7 linked regions of the Homo sapiens genome follow. Changing the gene in region 3 together with the main gene of any one other region gives a genetic interaction. Each region holds a gene or a part of one and is shown on either strand. Other genes may lie near its edges.

Region 1 (4,145 bases), on a different chromosome or scaffold from region 3:
AAAGTCAGGAAAGTCTGAGACCCAGGAGAGGGGGCACTGCCACCCTTCCTCCTCCTCTCTGTGAGCACAGGTCACTAAAGCACATCAGGGGAAGAGAACACAAAGGGTATGAAGTCACTAAGAGTCGCAGGTGGGCTCTGCTGGAAAGGACATGATGCTCGTGAGCCTGGCAGTCAGAGGGAATGACAGCACTTGGCGTGTCTGCAAGCGCAAGTGTTTCCAGGGCAGGTTACTACATATGCTCATTTTCTCCCTGTGGCCTCCCCATCTGCCAGAGATCTGGGTGCCTGTAAGGATGTAGAAGGTATGGGATGACCCCTTGCTGGGCTGTCCAACTCAGCTGTGCAGCCAGGCTGCTCTGAGCTGCAGGGCACATGCAGCCTCCTCATCAGGTCACCTGCATTCCTAGAATTCTCCAAGTTCCAGACACACGGCCTTTAGTGTCCAGGGCTCTCCCCGCAGGACCCTTTGAGCTCTGCAGAAGCCAAGCATGACGAGCAACCTGCAGATTCCTCACTTAGAGAAGCTAGCCTTCTCCAGCTCCCGTGAAGCCTGGCCTTTAGAATCCTACTAACCTTCTTCTAGGAATCACAGAAGCCAAGGAAGGCAGTCGGGATAGGGAAAGACAGAGGGTATGGCTATTCTGAGGACAGGGGCTCCTTCTGTCAGAGTTAAAAATAAACACTTAGCAACTATGCCCAACTCTTCCTCTGCACAGGCCAATGGGCCTTGGCAGATAAATCTTTCCTTGCAGAGGAAATGTGGCCCCAGGGGAGAGGTGGGAGAAGGAGGCCATCGACACATGGTCAGAGTATGTAACTCTAGCTGAAGGCAGTGGGTTCCTCAAGTCCTATGTCTTGGTTGTCATTGCCATCACTCTCCACCATACACCCCTTCCCCCAAATAAACCATAATTCCTGAAAGCAGACATAGAGCCCTCCTAGGCCACGATTAGTATCAACACCTGTCTAGGGATTAGAAAAAATCAGAAAGAATACTAACGCCACGCTGAAGAACAGAATGCCAATGTCAGACTCTGCCCAGTATCTATCAGCTAAGCAAATATTCTAGCTACCTGAGCCCCTTTCCTCATCTTGCTCCACAAGTCTCCAGGATCCCTGGGGAGTAGAGGAAGAGGCCACACCTCCATGGACACACATCAATACTGCAGTCAAGAGGTAGAAGAAACCCATGCACTCGGTGACATTCTGCATGTGGCTGAGCTGGAAGGGCCAGAGGTGCCATGGCCTGACTCAGGAAGGAGATCCTGAGAGCCAGGGCCCAGTTATTCTTGGACGCTGACAAGATGAGGTCACACTTTTGAATGTGGTAGCCCAAAGCCTCACACTGCGGAGGTGGAGAATATAACGTAGCAACAGGGCAGGAGTACACGGTAGGTAGCATGCTCGGTGACAGGGCAGTCGGGTTGAAGGCCTGGGGCAGACTGCCCATGTGGGGCTGTCCTAGCATATAACTATGGTAACTCTGTTACCATAACCAGGTAACTCTGGCAAAGAGGCCTGCTTGGAGGTAAAACTGGAGGAAGCCAGGGCTGGAGGCGAGCACAGTAGAAGGTCTGATCCACTCTGATGAGCTTGGTCACTCTCCTTTTTGTCTAACCCTTTCCCTACTGGGAAATAAGCAGGACAGCTTCACGGAGCTTTCATACACACAAATCTAGACACCTGGAGACATAAAAACCATAGCACGTCTCCCAGCACTCAGAAGAGTGAGTTAGCCCCAAATCACCTACCAAGCTCAGGCTGGAAGAGAAAGGGGCAAGCAGGGAGAATATCAGCAGAAAGTGAGAGAAACAGGTCAGCGGTGTGGCAGGAAGCACTGGGACAGCTAACAGGGCCTGGCTGTGAGGGGAGACTGCAGCAGTGGCAGGTTTATTTTTAGCTGTTCGGCAGAGGGGCTGAGTAACAGTTCTGGGCCCTGGGCAGGAGGCCAGGCTGCTAAGGTCCGGTGTGTACTGAGAGCCTCCTAACAATGTGGATCATTAAAATGGCAGCAAACGAACAACTCGATCTTCTCCCTGTAGACAAGCAGGAGGATAAGGAGCCCCGCCGGAGGACGAAAGTGGAGGAGTCGGCAGGGGGACAGTCAGTAGATCTCCTGTTCAGCCCCTCCCCTCAGAGAGACTTCACCTTTGCTTCTGGTTCAAAAGAATCTTCATGGAGATGAGCCAGAGAGAAGGCATCAACAGTACAGCTCCCTCAGCTCCCTCATATGCTCTGAAACAGAAAAGGCTCCCATCGGGTGGCCACTAGCTTCCGCCTCTGGCCACCACTCTTCACCTCTAAGATGAGTCCTGGATGGACACTGGCCACAGAGATGCTTGGAAACGTCCCTCAAGAATAAGATGCCCTTTCATATGACCCTTTTGGAGGGCTCAGGTTCCCAGCAGAATGAGCGCACAGCTTGGCTGGTCTTGGAGGAGAACACCAGATACAAATATGGGCTGACCTTGGGGCCTTGTCCCAGCTCATTCTGGCACACAGAGGTGTTTACTGATCAGACAATAAAGACCCCAAGAACCTTTCACTGCCAGAGGCCCAGCCCAACTTTATGTCTCCTTCTACTGTGGCTTTCTTCCTCCTCCCACCAAACCTGATGGCCCAGCACACAGGACCCCACAGTCTAAACCTCCGGGGCTGAAACAGCTGCTCTAGCCTTGCATGGGCAGGAAGAGGAGGAAAGAGAACAGACATCACCAGGCAACCCCTTTTCCTCCTGCTTCCTTGGATTCCTGATATCTCTTCTTACTCAGCCTGGTCTGAGGGGCTGAGGGTCACCTGAATGTAAATCCTAATTTCCTCATCAGCTCTGTGAATCAGTCCCCAACTCTAACCTAAGAACAACCCCTAATCCATAACCATACCTTTGGTGAATTAGAAGGCACTCCTTTGAAAGAACCCAGCCACACACAAAGACAAAGCCAAGCAAGGAGACAGTGGCTGGACTTCAGCCTTCGCTTAGCTCCTCAACCAGATCCCTGTGCACAGGGAACAGCCTGCACCAGAAATCACAGTGGCCCTCAAATGCCCCATAACTTGAGAAAGGAATCTCAAACAGGGAATAGAGTTCCTCATCTCTACTTTGCACCACCACTACACTATGATTCTTCTGATTTTAAGGAAAGAGAAGATGCACACCCTGCTAAATTACGTAGTCTATCCTCTCTGCCGAGTCACCAGCATAGAACACTTTCTAAGTCTTCACACAAGAGAAGGAGCAGCTGGTCAGTGATGATTATTCATTAACTGGACACAGGCTGCCCTGGAGCCAGGCACTAAGCTTACGAAAGGGCATCTGTGCTGACCCAGATACTGCTGATGGTCAGACCCGGAGCAAGTCAGCAAGCTATCCTGCCTGCCCTCCACCTCTGGCCTGCAGCACCGCCTTCTACTGCCTCACCCTGCCGGTGCTCAGGAGCTGCTCGAGCCGACCCTCTGTGCAATGAGGCCTGGAAAGTTTAGCTGACCTATTCAAGGTCATGTAACTTGTTAGCAGCATACAAACACTGGAAGCTTTCTATTTATGTATGCACTTATTTTTGCTTTCTTATCTAGCACATAACCCATGGTAACAAGCTCATCTCTACATATCTATATCTGTGTATGTGTGTATATATATATATATATATATATCTTAAAATACAAAATACCAGTATTTTCCTAAAAACTAGAAAAGGTACACAGCAATCTGATTTGGGTTCTATAACTGCCATACGTTATTACACTGTCCAGTGACATGGCCCCTTCTCTTCACCAATGCCCCCATTTACAAGGTAACCCATGTGGAAAGATCCTAGCTGATGCGTTAGTGGAGCTCAGTTTTGCTCCACCAGGTCTACAGTCTTCTAGCAACCAAAAACCAAAGGGGCCCAGACCAAGAGCAGGTCCCAGGGAACCAGGTCTCAAGATGTGGCTCGGATGCTGACACCATGTAAGACCTTGGACATGCCACTGAACATTTCTGCACTAGGCCAGCTTCTTCCTCAGTGATGTGCAAGGAGTCAAGAAAGATGACCAGGGAGTGTGGGTTCTAAGTTACTATGAAGTGTGGGTTGCTTTGCCACTGGGCCTCAAACCATTACCAAGAAAAGCTGCAGTCCCTGCAAAGAACAACTCTTCTCTGCC
Region 2 (4,145 bases), on a different chromosome or scaffold from region 3:
TTGGCCTCTCAAAATGCTGGGATCACAGGCATGAGCCACCGTGCCTGGCCATTTTCTGCATATTTTCTATGTAATCATTTTGGCCAACACTGTGGCTCACTCCTGTAATCTTAGCACTTTGGGAGGTGGAGGTGGGAGAATTGCTTGAGCACAGGAGTTTGATACCAGTGTGGGCAACATAGCAAGACCCTGTCTCCAGGAAAAAAAAAAGGAAGAAATTTTCTTAAAAAAAATTCATATATATAAAATTAAATTCAAAATATTGGTGATAAGGAATTGAATTTGTTCAGATTTTCTGTTTTTTGAAATGTATCTGTGAGGAAAGAAGTATAACAGTTTTGTATGCTAAGCTTTGTCTAATTCATCTGGCAATGAATTCTGCAGTGAATTTTCCAGATAACTGAAGTTTACCCTTTGAGGCCCTTAGACATTTTTAAAAAAGTTTACTAGGCTGGGTGTGGTGGCTCACGCCTGTAATCCCAGCACTTTGGGAGGCTGAGGTGGGTGGATCATGAGGTCAGAAGTTTGAGACCAGCCTGGACAACATGGTGAAACCCCGTCTCTACAAAAAAATACAAAAATTAGCCGGGCGTGGTGGCACATGCCTGTAATCCCAGCTACTCGGGAAGCTGAGACAGGAGAATTGCTTGAACTCGGGAAGCGGAGGAGCGGAGGTTGCGGTGAGCTGAGATCACGCCATTGCACTCCAGCCGGGGTGACACAGCGAGACCCTGTCTTTAAAAAAAAAAAAAAAGTTGACTAATCTGAATGGAAATATTTCTAAAATACATTATCTTTTTATGCTTTGCAATTCCTCATAGTGTAGGTTTGTTTCATTGTTTTTTTTAAATACTGAACTTTATTTTGAACATCTCTCATTGACCCCAAACTATGTACTATAATTTATCAGTTTCATATCTGTTTTTTTTTTTCTTTTTTTTTTCTTTTTGAGACGGAGTTTCGCTCTGTTGCCCAGGCTGGAGTGCAGTGGCACAATCTCGGCTCACTGCAACCTCCGCCTCCCAGGTTCAGGCAGTTCTCCTGCTTCAGCCTCCCTAGTAGCTGGGATTACAGGCATGCACCACCACGCCTGGCTAATTTTGTATTTTTAGTAGAGACAGGGTTTCACCATGTTGGCCAGGCTGGTCTTGAACTCCTGACCTCAGGTGATCTGCCTGCCTCCGCCTGCCAAAGTGCTGGGATTACAAGTGTGAGCCACCGCGCCTAGCCATATCTGTTCTTTTTTTTTTTTTTTTTTTTTTTGAGACAGAGTCTCACTCTGTTGCCTAGGCCAGGCTGGAGTGTGCAGTGGTGCGATCTCGGCTCACTGCAACCTCCACTTCCCTAGTTCAAGGGATTCTTCTGCCTCAGCCTCCCTAGTAGCTAGGATTACAGGTGCATGCCACCACACCTGGCTAATTTTTGTATTTTTCTAGAGACCAGGTTTCGCCATGTTAGCTAGGCTGGTCTCAAACACCCGACCTCAGGTGATCCGCCTGCCTCTGCCTCCTAAAGTGCTGGGATTACAGGCATGAACCACCGCGCCTAGTCCATATCTGTTTTCTTTTTTTTTTTTTTTTTTTTGGAGACAGAGTCTTGCTCTGTCGCCAAGGCCGGAGTGCAGTGGCGTGATCTCAGCTCACTGCAACCTCCGCCTCCCGGGTTTAAGCGATTCTCCTGCCTCATCCTCCCAAGTAGCTGGGACTACAGGCACCTGCCATCATGCCAGGCTAATTTTTGAATTTTTAGTAGAGAAGGGGTTTCACCATATTGGCCAGGCTGGTCTCGAACTCCTGACCTTGTGATCCACCCGCCTCGGCCTCCCAAAGTGCTGGGATTACAGGCCTGAGCCACCGCACCCGGCCAGCCTGTATCTGTTCTTTAAAGTTGTTTTGTTTTCCTTACTCTCATGTTCTTCTTGCTGCTTATTGTGCCTTGTTGCTGCCTGTTGTGCAATTTCTTCCCTCTTGTATTTTACTGAACTTCATCTGAAGAAGCCTTAGTAGCCAGATAAACAAGCTTGTTTGGGCTAAAAAATCAATTGCTGTGTGAGAGTTTGTTGGATTCTCTTCTGAGTAAAGGGTATGCGTTTTATTGTACGGACTTTGTATCACCTATTTTGGCTTTTCATCTAGGCCTTTTTTTTTTTTTTTTCTTTTTTCTTTTTAGCCTCCTGGTTCTAGATACAACTGATACTCTGATACAACCTGGGTAAATGTGGTCTTGAGTAGTAAATTATCTGTGAAGCTTCTCCGAACTTTGCCACATAAATGAGCCTGCTCTTATTGTGAAGTAAATCTTACTCTAATCTGTATGTGAGTCAGTGGGAAATATCTGAGCCTTCGGATGGCTTTTGTTAACTGAGATTAGTTCTCTAGATTTTAGTGATTTCGTTTTGAACACCATACAAGTATGTGGTCCTTGGTTTATTTGGTCACTTGTAATCTCTTTAAAATTTTATTTTAAATTAGGAAATATTTTAGAAATACAAGAAAGTCACACACTATGAGATTAAACAGATGTTAACGTTTTGCCCCATTTTCATCAGACTGTGCATGCTTTTTTTGGGGGGGGAATAAAATGTCACAGATATCACTAAAGCCCATTTCCATCTCGTCCCACCCTGCCTCTAGAAGTAACTTCTTTCTTCAGGTAGGTGCGTATTATTCCTTTTTATTCCTATGTATAGTTTAAAACTTTAATTGCATATTAGTAGCCACAAACATCACATACCAATATTCTGTGCCTTTTGCATTTTTACATTAATGGTAATTATTTTTGACCTTCTGCAAGTGGCTCTTTTCAATGTTTCTTGTTAGAAAACTTGGCTCAACTTGAGTTTACTAATTATCTGCTTCTTCTTGTCTTTAGCTATTATAGAACTGTTCCACCAAGGCAACAATTATTGCTATTTTAATGGTGAAATCAGTTTTATTAGGCAAATTGACTCAGGCTTCAGACTGGCATTTGGAATTGTCACACTGGAGATTTTCTTTTACTGAAATCTCAGGACATTGACAATCAGAAAAAAACCCTCTTGAGTCTTACTATCTTACATGTAAGATATGTTCCTGAGTGACTGTAGTAAAGACTCATTCAGGAAAATGTTATCTCCGATTTCTGCCTCCCTATCTCATAGGAAACTTCCATTGTAAAGTTGTTACCAGGCGTCAAGCTGCCTCTTTGGTACAGCCCTTACTTAGTATTTGGCTCAGTTGAAGTGCAGTCTATATAGGAGGCCAAGAAGACTTAATCCTGGGTTTGAAACAAAGCAAGGATACACTAACATTCTATCCTTTAATAACATCAAGTAGAAAAATTGAAAATGAGCTTGTTATCAGTGCACTTTTATATGCCAACCTTGTTTCACTTGTGTTTTAAACTGGGAAACTGAAGATTTTAATGCTGAAATTTCTTTGAATTATTACCTGTTTTTTTGATAGTGGAACACACAGCTAATATTTACTAACATGAAGGTGTCAAAGGTGGGAAATCATGTACTACACCATCAGGTCAGCACTACTGTTTGGAAGAGCAGCATCACAATGAGCAGTGTTATACTGCGTTGTAGTCAGCACATACACTTATGTCCAAACAGATATTTTAAATTACCTTCTTGGGGTAGTACACATGTGCTGATATCCAAAGTGCCATATAATACAATACATAGTTTTTAAACTTCATATCATTCTGATCAGAAGCTTTATAAACTGTTAGGTGAATGCTGTTAGATGATATGAGAGCACAATTTAACCTGTGTGTGTGTATGTGTATGTCTTAACATCTATTAAGTGATGACTACATATGAAGCACTAAGTGCTAAAACAGAGACTTTACATAGATTATCCCATTATTGGTCAACTTTTTAAATAAGTGCATCTCTAATATAAGACAAGATGCTGACCAATTTTTAAAATGTGAATGGATTTCTATTTTTAAGATAAGTACCTTTGTTCCTTTGGTTCCTCCCTCCCACCCTTCCAGAAATGGTAGTATCCTGGAAAAAAAAAATTAGTAACAATTCAAGAAACAGCTTAATTCATTAGTATAAATAGATGAGTTTCCCTTAAACACAGGAGGAGTTGGAAGGTACTTGTAATTGGATGTTGTGCATGGTGCCTTTCCAAAATGCACAAATACTTTCT
Region 3 (4,145 bases):
AGGCAGGGGGATACATGGACCAGGCTGTGCGTGCTCAGCCGTGGCCTGGGCTGGGGCCCTCCCGAGCCCTTTGCTGTCCCAGATGTTGCTGGGCTCTGGATGAGGCCTCAGGTTAGACCAGGCTGGACTAGGGGCTTCAGGGCCCAGATCTCTGTGTGAGGAGGGACTGAGCAAGGGTCAGCGCTGACCACAGGAGGGAGGGACCACTGTGCCCTGGAGAGGCAGCAGAGATACCTGCCGCTGGCAACCCTGGCAGATGGGACGAGATGCGTTTACAGAAGCTTTCTTGGGAGTGGAGTCTGGAGCGACCTGCATGGCCTCCTGGAGGAGCCTGGCCTCTGCAGAACGCCCTGCTGTTTGCAGGCCTGGGGCCGTTTGCAGCGTCTGCAGTTGTGTGCGGGGCCGTTGACAGAGCCTCTGACTGTGCCAGGCTGTGTGAGAGGCTGCAGCTGTGTGCAGGGTCATTTATGGCTGAGTCCTTTCCCCTGTGACATGAGATAAGCCATCATGGTCTTGTCATAATGAAACAGATTTGGGCGTGAGAGGGCATTAAGAACTGTAGAGCAGCAGGAGGCATTGGGCACCTTGCCATCAGGGAGCCTGGACCCTGGACACTGAGCCAGGTGCCCTACAGAAGATGGCTGTCCCTCTCGCAGCTGAGACCCCTGAGATAACAGCAGCATCTACAGAAAGATTGGCGAGAACAGCACGGTGAGTGGCCAGGGTGAGGCCTCAGAATATGACTGGGATCAGGGTTAAGTCTGTAACCAAGGTCAGGTCTCAGTGTGTGACCAAGGTTGGGGCTCACTGTTTGACCAGGATCAGGGCTCTGTGTGACCAGGGTCAGGGTTCGGTGTGTGTCTGGGATCAGGGCTCAATGTGTGACCAGGGTTGAGGCTCAGTGTGTGTCCAGGATCAGGGCTCAGTATGTGACCAAGGTTGGGACTCAGTGTGTGTCCAGGATTAGCGCTCAGTATGTGACCAAGGTTGGGGCTCAGTGTTTGACCAGGATCAGGGCTTAGTGTGTGACCAGGGCCAGGGTTTGGTGTGTGTCTGGGATCAGGGCTCAGTATGTGACCAGGGTCGAAGCTCAGTGTGTGTCCAAGATCAGGGTTCAGTGTGTGACCAGGATTGAGGCTTAGTAGGTGAGCAGGGTTAGGGAGGGCTCATCCTGTGACCAGGGTTAACGCTTAGTGTCTGACCAGGATCAGGGCTCAGTGTGTGACCCAGATCAAGGCTCGGTATGTGACCAGGATTAGGGCTCAATGTGTGACCAGGGTTGGGGGCTCAGCACGTGATCAGGATTAGGGCTCAGAGGTGTGTGACTATCAAGGCTCAGGACGTGACCAGGATCAGGGCTCAGTGTGTGACCAGGATCAGGAAGGGCTCAGCCTGTGACCAGGGCCAGGGCTGAGCCGTGGGCTGGGTGGCCATTCCCTCTGCTGAGGGTGCAGAGGGCCTCTGAGGTACCCCATGGCCACAGAGCCCAGCACCCTGCCTGCTCCCTGCATTCTCAGATAGTTGGGTGCTGGCCTCTCTGTGTTCCAGGTCCCTGTCCCGTGACCAGCAAGACCCATCAGCTGATTCCTCACCCCTCCCAAAATAGCTACGAGAGCAGGTGGGGTGGGAACAGCCCCCGCACGTGACCCCTGTGGAGTGGATCCTCCGCAGTGGGGGTATAACTATCGGCCTGGCTGTGAACTACCACCACCTTTTCCCTGGTCGTGTGGGGCTTCCCTGCTGGCGTACAGGGCCCAGCTTCCTCCTGGCTGCCATCTGAGCGGTGCCCACCCTCCCTGCTCTGAGGCGCCCCAGCTGATGCCCGCCCCTCTTAGACCCTAAAAACTGGACCCATCCCTGCGGCTCAGCTGGGGTCGCTGTTCGGATGCAGGGGCTCACACGTGGGCTGGGGAGTCCAGTTCCTGCTGTGGGGACCCAGTAGCTTTTCTGGAAGAAATGTCCTTGCTGGTAGATCTGGGGTCCTGAGCACCCCAGAGGAGGGAGTGGTGTGCTGGGCAGCTGGGGTCCCAGCTGCCAGTTACCGTGAATGTAGGTGGGGACACCTTTGCCTCTGCTGGGTGGCCCAAGGGACCTAGGACAGGCTCTTCGACAGCCAGACACTACCTCGACCAGTAGTGGAGCCTGAAGTCCACTCTTGGTGGACCTCACTGCATCAGGGTCTGCCTGGCTGGAGGGTGACATGCCCTTCCCTGGGGGCTTCAGGGGCCATGACCCTGCCCCAGGGGACTGAGGGGACAGGGCTCCACCCCGAGAGGTCTGAGGGGACATGTCCAAGTCCTGGGTGACTGTGGGGGACACAGCTGTGCCCTGGGAGCCCTGGTGAGTGGGTCCTGCCCCCTGAGCCCTGCAGCCCCAGCCCAGCCCTGCCTCCTCCGTCCTCCCACCCCCAGGACCTGAAGAAGTACGGGGCTACCACTGTGGTGCGTGTGTGTGAAGTGACCTATGACAAAACGCCGCTGGAGAAGGATGGCATCACCGTTGTGGTGAGGCGCGCGCCACGGGGACCCTAGTCACTGCTGCCACCGGGGGAGGGTGGGGCGGGGGGCTCCGGGCCTGCGCAGAGGGTTTGGTGCCCCTCCTGTGGCAGCCCTGGGCATGTCTGTGCCTGGGCCACGTGTGTGTCTGGGTACATCAAGGGAAGGCCAGGGTGTTGGGCCGTGTGACCTCAAGAAAGTCACCCTTGCGCACCCGTCTTTCTGTCTCTAGGGTGGGCCAGCACGGTTCGCCAGGCAGGGGTGGCACATGCTTGGTGCATCGGCCAAGGTGGCGGGTGGGCTCCTCTGCCTGTCTCAGGCCCTCCTCTGGGCCTGTCTTGGGTGCATCTCAGTCTTGCTGCCTGGGCGGCTGGGGCCCTGTTGCCAGGCAGCAGGCTCCTGGGGAGGGCCCTTGGGCAGTTTCCTCGGCTTCTTTGGCCCTGGGGACCCAGGTCTGGGCGGGGGGTGGGGCGGTTCTGCTGCGATATCCTTGGGGGGGTGGGCCACAGCAGCTGCAGGCCCAGAGCCAGCCCCAGGGGGGTCCACCCCCGGCCCGGTGGACGACTGCCCCCCTGGTGCAGGCCTGCCCAGCTGCGCCTGGGCCTCAGTCTCCTCAGTGCGGAGCACCCCTCAGTCACTGCTTTTCATCCCAGGACTCTGCTTTTGGCTGGGGTTGCAGTTTTGTGACCTCAGCTTGGCGGTTTGGAATGGTGGCAGCGCTGGCGGTTTGGGGTCAGACAGGCCTTGGGCTGCGTCCCGCCTCTGCCCTCCCCAGCCTTGCGACCCTGCAGGTCACTCCGAGCCTTGGGTTCCTCACCTCAAAGCGAGGCTGCTTGGAAGAATGGGAGGCAAAGGCATGTCCCCGCTTCTCGCACGGGGTGCGCCCACACCCTCCCTCCCCTTCCACAGCAGCGGGAGGGATTGGGGTCAGACGTAAGTAGCCGTGACACCGGTTGTCTCTAGGAGTTGCCCTGCCTGGAGGCTGGGGAGGGGTGAGATGCCCCCGAGGGCTGTGTGTCTGCCTCAGTGGGCCCAGCGGGCTCTCCCTGGTACCAGACAGCCCCATGCCTGGCACAGTCCCTGCATGAACCCGCCTTCCCAAGACTGAAACGTGTCCACTCCTACTGCAGCGCCCTGGCCCGGGCCCTCCCCTAGGAAGACTCACGTTGCCCACCGATCTAGGGCGCTGGGGGACGGGACAGTGGGAAGCACAGGTCATCTTCCAAGACCAAATTAACCCCCAGGAGCAATGGGCCGGGGCCCGGTGGAACCGCCTGTTTCGAGTCCTGCCCTCAGAAATGTGGGCCCTGTCTCGCCCCACAGCCCTGTCTTCAGTCCTTCCTGGCACCTGGGCTGTGTGTGGCATGTGCCAGCCATCTTTGCATGCCAGCACAGGGGATGAGACCCTTTGCACCAGCCGACCCAAAACCTCTCAGGCTGCCACCGGCACACAGGCGTGAGGGATTGTGACCCCAGAACCAGAGCTCGGGCTGACAGGTGTGGGGATTAGGATTTGTGCGACTCTGGAGCAGGCTCTATTCAGAAAGGGGTGGGGTGGTCCAGGAAGGCTTCCTGGAGGAGGGGATAGCTGCAGTGTACAGGGAATGATGAGGAGTCTGAAGCACTCACCATGGGGTGCCCATAGGCAAG
Region 4 (4,145 bases), on a different chromosome or scaffold from region 3:
AAGATTTTAAAAGAAGCCATGGAGAAGGGACAGATCATATACAAAGAAAAGGTAATTAGAATGACCAAAGACCAAAGACAGAATATTGAAGACACTAGAATAATATCTTCCAAGTGTCAAACAAACAAACAAACAAAAAAACAGAACTGGCAACCTAAAATTGTGAACCCAGCAGAACAACCTATCACGAAAAAAGTGATAAACATTTAATAGACAAATGAAAACTGAACATACGCCAACAAGAGACCAAATTAAAGGAATTCCTAAAGGATGTATTTGATAAAACACTGAGTAAAGAAAATGGTAAACATCTATGCAAATCCAGATAAATGTTGCCTGTATAAAACAAAAACAATAATAATATCTAATTTGTAGACTGACAATAAACGACAGACAAAAATAATGATATTAACAATAACAATGTGAACCAGGAGGAGGCTGAATGAAGCTTCAGCATACAAAGTCCATACAATGTAAAAAAGGAGAGGTTAAACATTGTTTGGCTTTGAACTTTTTAAGTGATATGGGCAATTCTCTAAAATAATTGAAATAGGAATAAAAATAGAATAAGAAAAAACCTCAATCAAAAAAAGAAACAAAAATTATAAAAAAGGACAAATAGAAATAAAAATTAAGATGGTAGAAAGTAGATCCAATTATTTCAATACTCACAGCAATTGTAAATAAACTAAACTTAATATTTAAAAGACATAGATTATCAGATTGAAACGTGAGAAGGATGACCCCTACAATTAAATAACTGGCTTCAATTAAATATTGCATTAGAGGTCTTTCTTATTTAACATAGTAATAAAGAACAATAAATTAATTAGAAGGATAAGAACTGGAAAGAAATGCAATTGGCATTACTTACACAGAAAATACAAAAAACCTCAGGCAAATCATTAGCCACATAGTATCTTGCAGAAGAGAAGGATTCAAACAAGACACAAACATAGTGATAAATTCCACACTAAAAGTTTTTTTTCCTCAAAAGAAAAGAAATTGAAAAGATGAACCACAAACTGCAAGAAGATATTTTGCAACATTATCTATATTCTAGAATATACAAAGAATTTCTACAAATCAATTAAGATAAAACACAGAAAAATGGGCATAGATATTTCACAGAATAGGACACGTATATGGCCAAATAAACAATGTAATTATCAATCCTATTAGTAATTAGAGAAAAGTAAATGAAGATGACAATGAGACACCATTTTAAAATACTAGGTTGGCAAAAATCAGACATTTGATAATACCAAGGTAGGAGAGATTATGGATCAATGGAGCGCTTATACATTAATGATGGAAATATTCCTTTGTATGTCCACTTTGAAAAACAATTTGGCATTATCCTGTAAAGGTGAATATTCTCATACTCAACAACTCAGCAATGTGACTCCTAGGGATGTTTCCTAGAGGAGCTTGTACTTGCACAAGAATGTGTGTAGTAGCATTATTTGCAATAGGAAAAACTAGAAATAACCAAAGTGTTTCATTAGCAGGAAACCAGATAAACTGTAGTATATCACAGATATTATTCAGCAGTGAAATAGAATAAACTATAGCTACAGTGATATGACAATATATATAAACCCTAGAAACAAAATGTGACTTTAGAAAGCAAGTCCCAAGAAAACAACACACAGCTCAAAATAAAGCAAAACTAAATCATATATAGTTTATGAAAACATATATATAACACTATAATCTAAAAAAGCATAATTCAGGAAAATAACTGTCAGGGGAAGAAGGGGAATGGCACAAGGGAAAACATAGGTAAATGGAAGTTAGAAATACTGGTGCTTGAGTTCTTAATTGTTCATTATATCACTATGCTTTATAACTTAATGTTACATATACGTGTGTGTGTGTATATATTATTTCATATGTATCACAATTTATTTAAAAATATAAAACAGTTAAAAACAAACAAACAAAACCTCTTTGCTTATTTAGTGAAGGAATTGGAGCTTGAAGTCATGTCCCAGCCCAATTCTTTCCATTAGACTTAAAATACAATCTAATCATGTCAATGACAAGCTTAAAAATTTTTTAATGATGCCACAGCACTATGGATAAAAGAACAAATGCCCAAGCATGCTGAATAAAATATGACATTCATAATTTGAATTTCTCCAGTCTCTTTTACCATTCTCATATATGTATGCATTCTAGACAACATTAAATATTTCAGTTTCTTGAATGCAAAATATTTTTTATACCCTAGTATTTCTAACAATCAGTAACTTTATAATAAAATTATAGTAAAAATCGTAAACATTTTTTCTTGAGGTGGGATTTTGCTCTGTTGTCCAGGCTGGAGTTCAGTGGCATGAGCATAGCTCACCGCATCCTTGAACTCCTGGGCTCAAGCAATCCTCCTGCCTCAGTCTCCCAAGTACCTAAGACTACAGGTGCACACTACCACGCCTTGCTAATTACTTTATTTTTTGTTGAGATGTAGGCCTTGCTATGTTGCCTAGGCTAGTCTAGAACTCCTGTGTTCAAGTGATACTCCCACCTTCATCTCCCAAAGTGCTGGGATTACAGGAATGAGCCACTACACCTGGCTCAAAACTAGTAAAATATTTTAGCAGTAGAAACTTAAAGTAGATAATTACAAATGGCTTTTCCTTCCAAAAGTGCTGCCTCAGTTTCTTCAATTGCAAAGTGAGGGTGACATCCTTTACCTCATATATTTGATGTGAGGATTGAATAAGGTAGTATAGGACACAGCACTCACTGACAGGGAGTGTAGTTTAGGCAAAGCTTATAATATGAATAAAGTTATCACTTTAAAAGTTGTATCAATACAGTCAAACTGAAGGGAAAGAGCTGGCTAATTTTTATAACCAATTACAGTATAATGCCATTTAAATATAATTTGGACTCACATCCAACAAAAAGAAACAATGTCTCCCCCTACATTCTGCCAAGGCTTCCTATGATAAATCTTTAAGAATGTTATATCATTCTTCACCTGTAGGTTTAGGTTTACCTTTTATAATTAAATTAGGCACTCTACCTTCAAGTGTTTTATTTTGACACTGGTAGAACACACAGAGCTATTTTTCTGTAAAAATTTGGCAAAACAGTAAGGTTTTACATTGTTAAAGGGATTCTTAACCTCAGCATTCATAGTAAAATAATGGAAACATAATTTCCAATACACCTGAGGGTTTAATTGAGGTATAGACTCAGTTTGTTCAGATTAATCTCACGAAATGACGAAGTTTTAAAGCCTAAAGCCAACAATTTATAAAAACCATGGATTGTTTCTTATGGAAGTAACTCGGTTTATTCAGAAATCAGTATTTCACATATACAGAGGTTATAGATATGTATAGAGCCCTAATTGTTTCCTGTGGTGCAATGAAGAGCCACAAAGGACAGGGGTTGAAGTAGGTCATGCAGAAAACTTGCCTTTAGAAATCTGTTCCTTTTATGATTTTAAAGAGATTAAGAAGCCCCTTTAAAAATTTTTGATCTAGCACAGAACTGAAATATATGATACTTTCCATGTGAATTGGGAAGGAATAACAAAAATCTTTTGTACAAATCTGATTTTAGGCAAGCCAAATTTGGACACTCTGAAAAGAGATTTTGAATAATACCACAATAATTCCTTTTATAGTTTTGTCAAGGGTTTTTACTTATGTTTTTTCATTTATCTTTTCAATTACCATATAAGGTAACTATAAAGAAAAATGGCTCAGAAAAATCTTCAAACTGGCAAGTAACCTGCTGCTGTAAACATCCACAGGAATGTGGCAGGCAGTGTTCCCTTTCTCTCTTTCAAAGAGCACAGCCTTAGGGCTTAGGCGTTTGTCTTTCTATCAAACATCGGCAACAAAATTTCTTAAAGATCTTATGCTCCGTAGTACCTGCCCTTCACTCTCTCCCACACACATAAGACACAAAGCGCACACAATTAGACTTTCAAAGCAACTTTACTAATGTGTATGAAGATCTCAGATGCATAAACTATATAAATTAAGCTCGTTAAATCTAGTGTTGTCACTCACTTCAGCTTGGAATTAATGAACACCAATCAGACTCCAAAAAGTGTCAAAATGTTCTTTTCTAGATAATGCACATTTTTAACACTAGCCTGAGAGAAGCTCTCCCAGTTTGAA
Region 5 (4,145 bases), on a different chromosome or scaffold from region 3:
ATTTTCAGACATCCAAGTCTAGAAACATTGCTAGATAGTCAAAACCAACCCCATTTCTTATACTAAGCTATATTTTTAATGAATGCTAATACATCCCTTTTACACTTTTATTTTTTGACCCAGAAGAAAAACCACATGGTCTAGATCAAGAAATAGATAAATCATGAGAGATAGGACTTTGTTTCCTGCTACCTTTGAGCTGGGGAGAAACCTGACATGACCCTTTATGCTCTCCAAGAGTCAATGAGTTGACACATAGATAAAGCAAAGTGTATGGATGCCTGGGGAGGATACTGGTCTTTCACATCATCTGGATAGTTAGTGACAAAGACTAACACCTGGATAGTCTGTCTTCCATCTCGGCCCACTCCTGCTAAGGCAGGACTTGCCATTCTCCATCCTTCAAGGTACACAGGTCCACATCCATTCATCCCCAACAGTTCTTACCTGCCTCCCTTGGTCTCGGAAGAACTCTCCAGTATTCTCAATAACCTGTTCATCTGACAGCTGGGAATAGGGCTGTTCTTGACAAAAGGTGAAAGTCTCCCACAAAGTAACCCCAAAGGCCCACACATCACTTGCTGTAGTGAACTTGCCCTATTTAAGTAAAGAAAAGAATGGGAAATCAGAATAACCTGTGCACAACAACACCCTGTTAAATTTCATAATCTGCAGCTATACCCCTTCCCCCACCACAGGCAAGGAATTCTGAAAATGCCAAGATGTGCATGGAGTATTTAGAAACAGCCCATTCTTTCATTCTCATGATCTCAGCTTGGTTCTGTTTCTCTGGGGATGAGATCCAAGAGCTGAAAAAAACGCAGCCATAAGCTATTTGACTCTGCAACTGAGTGTTAGGTCAACCTTTCAACTCTAGGGTAGCCTTGGGAAAATGCTCCTGAGAAAGGCAAAATCTGAATGGGAAGTCAATGGTTTTTATGTTAGAGATAGAGGAATCTAGTTTAAGTGCCTGCAGTGAATCCAGGACTCTCATTTACCAGTTCAGTGATAATCACAGTGTTGAAAGATAGACTTTAACAAGTGACAGCAATGAGATTCAGGTGTAAATAGCATGCATTGACTACTCACATTTTCTACTCAATACAGACAACCACACTGTGAAGTGGATGATATTATTTATTATTAAATATTTTTTCCTTTGAGAAATGGGGTCTCATTATGTTGCCCAGCCTGGAGTGCAATGGCCAGTCACACGTTTGATCTCATTACTGATCAACACGGGAGTTTTGACCTCCTCTGTTTCTGACCTGGGCTGGCTCATCCCTCTTTAGGCAACCTGGTGGTCCACTGCTCCTAGGGGTGACCATATTAATGCCAGACTTAGTGAGGACACCCAATTGTCATAGCGCAGCGCAGCCCAGATTTTCATCCTCCTGCCTCAGCCTCCTGAGTAGCTGGGACTACAGGTACATACCACCATGCCAGTTATCCTTATTTTTTAGATCAGAAAAATGAAACAGGAGAGGTTTCCCAAATTCTTCTGGTTAATAAGACCATTAGTAGTGGAAAAACTGGATTTGAACCAAGGTCCTCTGAATGTCAGTCTAATATATTGTTTTGAACACCATATAATACCTTTAGGGAGAGTAATGCCTAACTATCCCATTAGAAATGGGTAAAATATAGCAATTCACATATATAGGTGAAAAAGATCTTTATAAGGATTTATGTAAACTGGTGTACATCACAGCATCATTCATAATAGCAGGAAATTGGAAAGTACTTAAATATCAAATTATAGAGGCATTATTAAGTTATAGTATATATCTACACATGGAATATTATGCAGATAATAAAATGTTAAGTTAAAAATAGAGATAGAGAATTGTATGGCATAGTGTCATCCCAATTATGTAATATAAATTACATATATGTACATATGTATATAAATGCATGCACAGAAAAAAAATTGCATGCATAGAAAAAATATATGTATAGAAAAAAATCCTCTAAGAAAATATACCAAAGTATTGATAGTGGTTATCCTGGTGAGTGCAAGGGAATAACTATACATTTTTTATTTCAAAATTAATTTACAAATCCTATAAGAATATTAGCAGGAAATAAGCAGATTAATCATAAATGAACAAAACCAAATTGGTCTCAGACTTTTCTCTGCAATGTCACACAAGAAAAAAGATAAAATAACATGTACATGGCATTGTAGGAAGTAAAAGTGTATAGTCTAATGAGTCTATAAATCAGCTGAGTGGTTATAAAATCAACAATAAAAAGTCTCAGGTATGCATGGACAGAAAATATACCTCTAATAGAGATATTTGGGAAAAATTACTCACTTATGGTATGGAATATCAAGAATCAAATAAAAATTATAAAGCAAAGAATGATGAACTTAAAAAGAACATGTTGAAAAGTATTGAAATACAATTATAGGAATTAGTCTATGTAATTATGAGAAACATGCTTATGAAACTAATGGAGAAGAAAATATTTTGTATAGGTAACATTTCTTTAAATGATAAGGTTTTTAATATCTTAAATTAAGAACAATCACTAGGTAGAAATGATAAAGAGAAACAAAGATAATAAATCTCTTATACTTTTTAACTTCTCTCCCTAAATTTTTATGTGTGTTAATTTTTTAGCAGAAATAGGCAAGCATTAAATAATAAGAATTAGTACACAAAGAAAATAATTTCAAATCAGAGAAAATACTACAGTCTATTGAGTTTGCCTCCTGCTGTCTCAGGTTTGTCTCCACGTGTCATGCATGTGAGCCCACAAGCCAGTTGTTAGACAGGGCTTTAAAATGCTGAGAACTTACCAGCAAGATACTCTCCCAAGACATCCAGCGGATAGGGAGCACTGCCCGGCCCTGGATCCGGTAATAGTCACCACTGTACAGGTTCCTGCTCATTCCAAAGTCAGCTATCTTGATTGTGTAGTTCTTACCCACTAAACAGTTTCGTGTGGCCAGATCTCGGTGAACAAAATTAAGAGAGGAAAGGTACTTCATGCCAGAGGCAATTTGGGTAGCCATAAACTTCAGATTGGTGTAACTGAGGAAATAGACAAGAAGACAGAAGGTAGCCTATGGAAACAGGAAGATGTGAAAGGTACACATTCTAAAATGGTATCAACAAACTAGGGTTGAAAGCTCAACATTCTTTCTCTACTCTTGATGAATCCCTTGCGTTTCCCCAAAGGGCAGCTGCTCCATTATTCCCTGCACACTGACTTCCCCCACCATCCCAGAACATTGATACACTTTAAGGCTCACTGCTCCCTATTTTCAGATCCCAGGTTACTCTCATGACCACAGGGAGGAGAAGGAAGACCTGGCTTGTTTACCTGACAGTGCGTACATCGCTGGAGGAAGAATTAGGGGGCTCGTGGCGGGAAAGAAACTGATTGAGATCTCCATTCTCCATGTATTCAGTGATCATACAGAGAGGGTCATCAGTGATACACACAGCTAATAGATGGATGATGTTTGGGTCCTTGAGCCGAGACATGATCTTTATCTCCTTAAGAAAATCATTCCTTGGGAGGATACAGACATAGATAAACTCAGAAGTTGCCAGAGTCAGAATCAAGAGAGAGAAGAATGCACACCAAGGCCTATTCCTGGACATTATGCCAAATCTTGTTTCCCTTTGGATAACTTTTGAGAGGACAGAGAAATTGACACCTGGATCTGTCTCATTCTATTCCTCCTGAAATATCATGGGCCCTTATTCAATTGTAATGTTTTTGAGAACAAGATCCATGACTTATTCACATTTCTATCCCTCACATCTAACAAAATCCCTGCCACACAGAAAGTGATTAATATTTGCTGAATCAAAAATAGGCTGCTAAAAACCACTCTACAGAGTAAAATGTTTCACTGAAAATCATATCTTAAGTGCACGAGGATATTTACCTTTTTTTTTTTAAAGCCATGGAGTCACTCTATTACTAGTGAAGAAACTTTGTATGATGTGAACAACCATCTTTGGCTTATCTGATTACTCTTTATTTTCTCATACTGACTTTTCTTAATGCAGTACGAACCATCAGTCAGTTGCAACATGTATTTAGTAGCCTGTCGAAAACAGAGCTCTTTAAAGGCTGTGGTGGTAATCATGTCAAAAGAAGTATTCATTTGACCAAGACTAATA
Region 6 (4,145 bases), on a different chromosome or scaffold from region 3:
TGCGTGCCTGTAATCCCAGCTACTCAGGAGACTGAGGCAGGAGAATCACTTGAATCCGGGAGGTGGAAGTTGCAGTGAGCCGAGATCGTGCCATTGCACTATAGCCTGGGTGAGAGAGTGAGACTCCATCTCAAAAAAAAAAAAAAAAAATATATATATATATATATATATATCTTTTGGAGGGGGCACATAATGCAACCCACCACATTCCCCAACCTCTCCCTGCTCTCTAGCCTGTGGGTTCTTTGAAGATTGTGTCTTCATTCCACATATTTTTCTTACGTCTATTATGAACTACACCCTGTTCTAGGCACTGAGGGCACATCACAGTCAAGGTCCCTACAGTTGGTGGAGCTTCTTCCTCCACATGGATTCAGACAGTAAACATTGAAGTGGCCCTTCAGTGCTGAAGCCAAACACTAAGTGCATGTATGCACATACACACATACAGTAGGCGCCCCTTAGCCATGGTTTCCCTTTCTGAGGTTTCAGCTACTCATGGTTAACTGCAGTCTGAACATACTAAATGCGAAATTCCAGAAATAAACAATTTCTAGATCTTAAATGGCATGCCTTTCTCAGTGGTGTGATGAAATTTCATTCAGTCCCACTCTGTGCTGCCCAGGACTTGAATCTTACCTTTGTCCAGCCAATCCACACTGTCTACACCACCTGCCCGTTAGTGTCTCAGTAGCCGACTCAGTGATTGGATCACCTGTCTCTGTATGGCAGTGCTTGTGTTCAAGTCACCCTTATTGTATTTCACAATGGCCCGAAAGCACAAGAGTAGTGACACTGGCAATTTAGATATGCCAAAGAGAAGCCGGAATGTGCTTCCTTTAAATGAAAAAGTAAACGTTCTCAACTTAATAAGGAAAGAAAAAAAATGTATGCTGAGGTCAGACATTGGTATGGTAAGAACAAATCTTTTGTCTGTGAAATTGTGAAGAAGGCGAAAGAAATTCATGCGAGTTTTGCTGTTGCACCTCGAACTGCAAAACTGTGGCCACAATGCATGATAAATTCTTAGCTAAGATGGAAAAGGCATTGAGTTTGTGGGTGGAGGACATGATGGCAATCAGGTGTGGTGCTATCCTCAGTTTTAGGAACCCACTGGGGAGTCTTGGAACATATCCCTCGTGGGTAAGGGGAGGCTACTGGATATGCGTATATATAGTCACTTAATATATATTGGATGAGGGAATGTTAACTGGAACAGTAGAAGATGAAGGATAAATTACTACATTTCATCCAGCCAGTGCTTTCTGGCATGTTTATCAAAATGTAAAAGTGTGGTTGCTCTTTGTCCCTTGTAAAACTTTGTTCTATGGTACTTGAATTCTTATTCTCAGTTGACCTGAGGGTCAACCCAACTCCCCAGATAATACTTCTGAATATCATAAAACCAAGCTTATAAGGTGTATTCCTAATTTTTATTAAATTCAAACTTACAACTAAAGAAAACACTTGAATTCTGTTTACCTTCCAGGGCAGCGTCAGTTCCTCTCAGTCTCCATTTGTGCAGATGCCAGGTGAGTACTTTAATTCAATAAGCAATTATTCCCTTTTGAATTTAAATCAAGCATCTGGGCTTCCATTCTTTCATAACGACCTTACAACACTTCCAAAACTCTGCTCCTTTAAAATAGTTTTGTCTAAAATACAAAATCAGCGAAGGACAGAACTCATGCAGTAATTTCTGAATTTAAAATTCATTTTGTCTTGAAAGCAGCCCTTTTATCCCAAGCTTTTGGGGCAAAGGCAATATAAATTATGCCCTTGATACAGTTTTAAATTGTCTAAAGTTCTGACACCATGATCTGATAGATGAGGCATCTGCTTTCAAACAGAAAGGGGAAAGCCGTCTGCGAGCAGAGGGAGTCAGGCATTTGGTTCAGTATTTTGAATTCATTTCAATGCCTATGTCTCATTAAATACTCCTGTGGGGATGTAAAAGGGGAATTCCTAATAATACTGTTGGACATTCTTGTATAAACACACACCACACAGGCAAAGACAATCTCATTTAGTTCAACTCAGACGCGGCACATTCCCTAATAGTTTTATCACCTTCAGAGCTGGATAAGGGAAAGGAATAAGAGCAATCGAGGATCCCGAATATTTAAATGTCTGTATGTTGTTTCCCAATCATATATAGTGCCATTGAAATTTGGTGGCATCTCCTGCCTTCTACAGAAAAAAAAAAGAAAAATTTCCATAGCTTCTCTTTATCTAGAAATTATCCTTTCTCTTTGTACAGAGAAAATCCATGCTAAGAGAGCAGAGGCTTTTTTCTTCGTGGTTGTTTTGATTTGGAAATTGGGAGTATAGATGAGAGCCTGGAAACCTTGTTTTCATATTCTCAACCTTAACCGCTCTCATAAATATAATTTCATTGTATGAAACAGAACCTTATTTATTTATATTAAGGTTCAGCTGCACAGATTTTTTCCCAAGGAAGTATGCTTATAATGAAAACCCTAACTTCAGCTTTCAAATGCATGAGCAGGTTAGAAGTTATAGAATGTAAGATGAAAGTGAAGTGAGTGGAGTCGTGCCACAGGTTTTGATGGGGAATTTTGATTTCTTCTTCTGGATGAATAAATTCACATGCCATTCTTGAACACAATGTTATACTACTAGGTTTAAAGAAAATGTATAAGGCATGAGATCTGCCCCCTTGGGCTCGCAGGTTGACTGGAAAGATCATTGTGACTCAGGTGAAAGAGGAATGAGCATAATATAAAGTGCCACATCCTGTGGAACGGGCTGGAATTCTGTGTCTATAGAATCAGAAGCTCAGAAGTGGTCTGCTGCTGTGGTTGGGGTAAGGTAAGGAAGACAGGCACTTATATCTTCTCCCCAGTTCAGCCTTTTTGTGACCTATGACCTAAGGGTGTTGGTGTTAGCATTAGATCACACCCAAGGCCAGCTGGAACAATTAAACCATCAGTTTTATAGACCTCAAGTCTATGCCCTCAAACATGTTCTGAATGATCAGTGTTTTCTGCTACAACTGAGCTACGGGGTCAGAAAGTGTTGAGCAAACACACCTTTTTCCTTGGAAACCATTTCACTGCTGGGCTTACCTTAAATGAAGCTCTTATCAGTTTCTGTCCCTCCCTCTCTCCACCAAGGAAAACTTTTTACTTTTTTTTTTTTTTTTTTTGAGACGGACTCTTGCTCTGGGCGAGATCTCAGCTCACTGCAACCTCCACCTCCCGGGTTCAAGTAATTCTCCTGCCTCAGCCTCCTGAGTAACTGGGACTACAGCAGCTGTGATTACAGGCATGGTGGCCCAGCTGATTTTTGTATTGTTTTTAGTAGAGATGGGTTTTCACCATGTTGGCCAGGATGGTCTCAATCTCTTGACCTCGTGATCCGCCAGCCTGGGCCTCCCAAAGTGCTGGGATTACAGGTGTGAGCCACCGAGCCTGCACCACCAAGGGAAACTTTATGTAGCCGGCACTGTCTTCCTAAACGTGCTGGGCCCTGGTGAGTTGAGTGAAGGAGTCCATGAGGCCACAAGAGGGCAGCAAATAACATAAAACTCATCAAAACCCTAAAACTACAGGCCTCTAAAATTGGCTTCTGTGTGGCCATCTAATCCTAAAGAAAGTCATTTATTGATGTCTGCCAGGCGTGCGACCCAGTGTAAGGTCAATGTGTGAAGAATTAGAAGGCAGAGTACAGCCTGCCTCTTTGAGGTGGGGTTATATGTGTTACCTTATCCAGACATAGCGATCTCAGATAACAGGCCAGGAGCACCTCTTGTTAACAGTTCTATGTATATGGAGAGGTAGCTCCGATGTTGTGAAAAAGATGCTTCCTTGGTTAAAATATGAATGCCAAGAGATTATTTCATTTATGTCTTCCTAGCACAGCGCCGGTCACCGGGAAGGTACTCAGTAAATGTGAATGAATGAACAGACACGGTACTGTCTAAAATGAACTCACCCCTAAAGGCGACAATGTTTTCAAACGTTAGTTATTTGGGCTAATGCAGGAATATTTCACGCTTTTCAAGACATTTCTCTATTTCCATGTTAGCGTTGGAGTCAGGCACGCGTTAGTAACATCGTTTCCCAGGCAGAGACTCAGCTGCAACCGAGGCCTTGACCGCCCTGGGAGGAATTTTCTGCCCA
Region 7 (4,145 bases), about 140 Mb from region 3:
TATTGACAGCCATTTAGATTGCTGTCATTTAATCACTACTGCAAGTAGCTGCAATATGGTAATAACTTTAAATTGAAATGCGAACCACTGAGTTATGACAGAATTTTATGAATATACTTCTAAATTATCTTTCATTATTTGCAGGTTAGTTCTATTTTGCTAAAACTACTACCTATGTATTGATTCCCTTATGTTTTCTATGGTTTAATTATTTACTTTAATGGAAAAAAATTTATTAGTAAACATGATCAACTTTGGGTATTTGTGACTTCCTTCTCCAAATTGGCATCATGTTTCATAAAACTCAAAAAAGATGCATGACCATCCTTTGTGTGCGAGACGCAGCGGGCGCGCCTGGTGGTCCTGGGATAGCGAGAACAGAGCATTTCTTCCTCCTCCACACGCCTCTGGGGACCTCGCGGTTTTCACTGCCAGTCTCGTTTCTGTTTCTCTTTGTAGTCCGTGGTGGGGAGCGGCAGCTGGCAGAGAGTCAACGCCCAGACGGCTGTGAGATCCCCGAGATATGCCGTGTTTGACCTCATGGAAGGGAAGTCTTATGTGTTCCGAGTGCTGTCAGCAAACCGGCATGGCCTGAGCGAACCTTCGGAGATAACGTCCCCCATTCAGGCCCAGGATGTGACCGGTGAGCTGTCACACTGGGTGGCCCCAAGTCAGGATGGACTAAGAGTGGGGTGACACCAAATAGCCTTAAATTGTGTGAATAAAGACATTAATGTTATAAACGAGTTGAAGTTCAAGTGGACTTAAAACTTCACTTTACGAGAGATTAAGAGCTCTCTGCCATGTTTTGTTTGGTTCTTGACATTTCTCCAAAGCTCCATCTTCTTTTCATGAAACCAGTAAGTGAGTTGAAAAATATGTTTAGGAAACGGTCACTTTTATTGTTTTATTTAAACTTTTAAAAAAACTTTTATTTTAGGTTCAGGGGTCCATGTGTAGGCTTCTTACATAGGTAAACTTGTGTCATGGGGGTTTGTTGTAAAGATTATTTCGTCACCCAGGTACCAAGCCTAGTAGCCATTAGTGACTTTGCCTGCTCCTCTCCCTCCTCCCACCCTAGACCCTCTGATAGTCCCCCGTGTGTATTTCCATCTATGTGTCCATGTGTTCTCATCATTTAGCTCCCACTTATGAGTGAGAACATTTGGTATTTGGTTTTCTGTTCCTGCATTAGTTTGCTAAGGATAATGGCCTCCAGCTTCACTCATATTCCTGCAAAGGACGTGGTCTTGTTCTTTTTTATGGCTGCATAGTATTCCATGGTATATATGTACTGCATTTTCTCTATCCAATGTCATTGACAGGCATTTGGGTTGATTCCATGTCTTGGCTATTGTGTGAATAGTGCTGCAATGAACATTCGCATCCATATGTCTTTATGGTAGAATGATTTATATTCCTCTGGGTATATATGCAGTACTGGGATTGCTAGGTTGAATGATAGTTCTTTTTTTTTTTTTTTTTTTTGGCTCTTTGAGGAATCATGACACTACTTTCCACAATAGTTGAACTAATTTACATTCCCACCAACAGTGTTTAAGTGTTCCCTTTTCTCTGCAATGGTCACTTTTAAAGTAATTCAAATTTTAAGTGCACTAGACTTTTTTGTTGTTGTCTTTTTTTAATTAATGCTTTTTTAAAAAAATTTTTGTTTTGTAGAGATAGAGTTTCACCATATTGCCCAGGCCAGTCTCGAACTCCTGAACTCAAGGGATCCTCCCACCTTGGCCTCTCAAAATGTTGGGATTCCAGGTGTGAGCCAGGGTGCCCAGCCAGGCACTAGAGTTTCTTGCCCATCTGGCTTGAAGGTCCCTCTTGGAAGGTTTCAAATACAAATTACAGAAATTTTGAATTGCAATCCCTGGAGTCATAACTCCTTCGTGGATGGCAGTTAACTAGCATGTAAGCGGAGGCACCCTGGAAATCCCCAGAAGCCTTCACGGGAGGCACATTGGTGTCAGGAACGCGGTTCTGAGTGCCTGGGTGCCCTCCACCCTCTCTCTGTCGTGTTTCCTGAGAAAGCCAGATACGGAAATGAACAAGGTCACGAGGCCGGCTGCCTCCAGGGCATCCTCAAGTTTCTATCTGGCTCTGGTTTTAACTGAAGCTCTTAGAACTCATACCCAGAACCACAGGCTTGACAAGACCAGCTGTCTTTGAGCAAGGCCCTGCCTTCTTGTGCTTTATGACACATATGAAAAATGACAGTGTCCATCACTGAGACACACTGTGGGGTGTGTGGCCCAGGTGGCCGGCACGGAGGACACAGGTGGCCCCAAGGCCTTACCTGACCTCAGTCCGCAGTCCACTAGTGGGGCCTGGCACCACATGACAGGATCTGATGGTTAGGTCATGATCGAATTTTGAGTGCCCCTCGGAGATTTCAACAGATCTGATAAAATTGAGTCTTACTTTCTTAAAATTGGTTAATTTCCAGTCCAAAAAATAGTTGTTACCCGGGTAGCCTCATCCCTGCTGCCAACAGAGAGTCTTTTAAACAGCTCTGATGGGAGACAGGAGGATTCAGGATGGATGTCATCCTGTGTCTCTAGGAGTTGTGTGGAGCTTGGGAAGAGATCAGAGAGACCAGCACCTCCCAATGGCCCTCGGGTGGTCGGCCCGGGGCTCCTCTCCTACTCCTGGACCCCTTGTCTGAATTTCTTCCAAAGCCCCCAGTCTGGCTGTCCAGTTCCCTGTGAAAAGGGCCGGAAGATCTCTGCTGTAGCTTCCAAAGCTCTGATGCCATTTCACCACTCCTTTTGTCTCCTACGAAAAGTTGTCCCTTCTGCTCCGGGTCGGGTTCTTGCTTCCCGAAACACCAAGACGTCGGTGGTGGTGCAGTGGGACCGACCTAAGCATGAGGAGGACCTGCTGGGCTACTACGTGGACTGCTGTGTGGCCGGAACCAACCTCTGGGAGCCCTGCAACCACAAGCCCATCGGATACAACAGGTGCGGCCTCCCTCCCCAGCCCTGGAGTCAGCCTTGCAGGAGTAGCAAGACCGTTGAGGTCCCTGTGGCCCTGGCACAGGGAGTACCATGGCCGCAAGGCTTCTGCGTAAATGAGTCTGTCTTAGCCACACACAAGGGCTGTATAATTTTAAAGTTTGACCACTTGGATGAGCTAGTTACTGCACTTGCTCATGTCGACCGAAACGATTTATTTATGGATGAAAGGAGAGTTCCAGAACCTGTTTTTTTTTCCCCTGACATAATTAGCACTTAGGCCTTTTCTTTGAATAGCAGAGTTAAAAATAGTGACTACGATGTGAAAGTCGTTTTATTTTTTTCGTATTGATTTTTTTGAACTTGAAAGTTGCTTTGTTCATGTGCCTGGTAGTTCTATTCCCCAGCACCTGATGGAGACCCCACCGGGCGCCGACTCTTCGCTTGTGGTGGGGGCAGCCTCGGGGGATGCTGGTTGCTTTGCAGGGGAAAGCCAGTGACCCTGCCTTTGGAGAGACTTGCTCCTGCTGCCTGCTGAGTGTGCAGGGATGTCTGAGGTTATTAGGCTTCTCTGCGATACGCGTCTTAGGAAAATGTCAGCAGCTGTCAGAACCACCCTTGTGGATAGATGATCAATTATGGCTCAGCCATTTCTCCTTTTAAAATCTGAAAAAAATACACTGTAAAAAGTGGTGGCTAACAAGAAGAGATGTCATTGAAAAGAATAACAATTAGATGTTCTTCACAGCCCACAGCAAATGCAGAAAGATCGATCAGAATAAGAAACTTAAAACATGATTCCAGTACAGGGAAATGGTTAGTGAATATTTATTGACTATATATGATAAATAATAATTGCTTACACGGACTGAATATCTATCATACACAAAGCATCTGTGCTAAGTTGTCCACCTAGAGTTTTCCATGTAGTGCCTGCAATAGTGCTGTGGGGTGGGAATTATCATCCCCATCTTACAAATAGAAAAACAAAGTCTTACAGGGGTTAAGGAGGTTGATTAAGACCATAAAATCTGTGAGGTTTCAAAGCCCCAGTATTCGAGCCTAGTCCATCTGACTTCCAAGTCTTGGCCTGTAACCACTGCAGTGTAATTACTGCTAATTAAGTTTTACATACACGGGTTCTTTTAGATAAGAAATGGCATACTGTTGGATAATAGA

Evidence for each region.
Region 1: changes in PTP4A3 (region 3) and MAPKAPK2 together harm fitness more than expected from each alone (negative genetic interaction), as found in Homo sapiens cells (one large-scale study listed by BioGRID).
Region 2: changes in PTP4A3 (region 3) and NPEPPS together harm fitness more than expected from each alone (negative genetic interaction), as found in Homo sapiens cells (one large-scale study listed by BioGRID).
Region 4: changes in PTP4A3 (region 3) and DTWD1 together harm fitness less than expected from each alone (positive genetic interaction), as found in Homo sapiens cells (one study listed by BioGRID).
Region 5: changes in PTP4A3 (region 3) and DDR2 together harm fitness more than expected from each alone (negative genetic interaction), as found in Homo sapiens cells (one large-scale study listed by BioGRID).
Region 6: changes in PTP4A3 (region 3) and POU2AF2 together harm fitness less than expected from each alone (positive genetic interaction), as found in Homo sapiens cells (one study listed by BioGRID).
Region 7: changes in PTP4A3 (region 3) and MYOM2 together harm fitness less than expected from each alone (positive genetic interaction), as found in Homo sapiens cells (one study listed by BioGRID).

What each region holds. Positions count from the first base shown.
Region 1 is NC_000001.11:206,690,991-206,695,135, reverse strand, and holds part of MAPKAPK2 (MAP kinase-activated protein kinase 2), read right to left. Parts: intron 1-4,145. UniProt on the Homo sapiens protein: Stress-activated serine/threonine-protein kinase involved in cytokine production, endocytosis, reorganization of the cytoskeleton, cell migration, cell cycle control, chromatin remodeling, DNA damage response and transcriptional regulation.
Region 2 is NC_000017.11:47,536,963-47,541,107, forward strand, and holds part of NPEPPS (puromycin-sensitive aminopeptidase), read left to right. Parts: intron 1-4,145. UniProt on the Homo sapiens protein: Aminopeptidase with broad substrate specificity for several peptides. Involved in proteolytic events essential for cell growth and viability. May act as regulator of neuropeptide activity.
Region 3 is NC_000008.11:141,422,637-141,426,781, forward strand, and holds part of PTP4A3 (protein tyrosine phosphatase type IVA 3), read left to right. Parts: intron 1-2,411; coding exon 2,412-2,504; intron 2,505-4,145. UniProt on the Homo sapiens protein: Protein tyrosine phosphatase which stimulates progression from G1 into S phase during mitosis. Enhances cell proliferation, cell motility and invasive activity, and promotes cancer metastasis.
Region 4 is NC_000015.10:49,637,715-49,641,859, reverse strand, and holds part of DTWD1 (tRNA-uridine aminocarboxypropyltransferase 1), read right to left. Parts: exon of another isoform or gene 1,037-4,145; intron 1-1,036. UniProt on the Homo sapiens protein: Catalyzes the formation of 3-(3-amino-3-carboxypropyl)uridine (acp3U) at position 20 in the D-loop of several cytoplasmic tRNAs (acp3U(20)).
Region 5 is NC_000001.11:162,775,032-162,779,176, reverse strand, and holds part of DDR2 (discoidin domain-containing receptor 2 precursor), read right to left. Parts: intron 3,526-4,145; coding exon 3,334-3,525; intron 3,042-3,333; coding exon 2,807-3,041; intron 598-2,806; coding exon 448-597; intron 1-447. UniProt on the Homo sapiens protein: Tyrosine kinase involved in the regulation of tissues remodeling. It functions as a cell surface receptor for fibrillar collagen and regulates cell differentiation, remodeling of the extracellular matrix, cell migration and cell proliferation.
Region 6 is NC_000011.10:111,279,909-111,284,053, forward strand, and holds part of POU2AF2 (POU domain class 2-associating factor 2), read left to right. Parts: intron 1-1,489; coding exon 1,490-1,532; intron 1,533-4,145. UniProt on the Homo sapiens protein: Transcriptional coactivator of POU2F3. This complex drives the development of tuft cells, a rare chemosensory cells that coordinate immune and neural functions within mucosal epithelial tissues.
Region 7 is NC_000008.11:2,089,549-2,093,693, forward strand, and holds part of MYOM2 (myomesin-2), read left to right. Parts: intron 1-459; coding exon 460-643; intron 644-2,797; coding exon 2,798-2,972; intron 2,973-4,145. UniProt on the Homo sapiens protein: Major component of the vertebrate myofibrillar M band. Binds myosin, titin, and light meromyosin. This binding is dose dependent.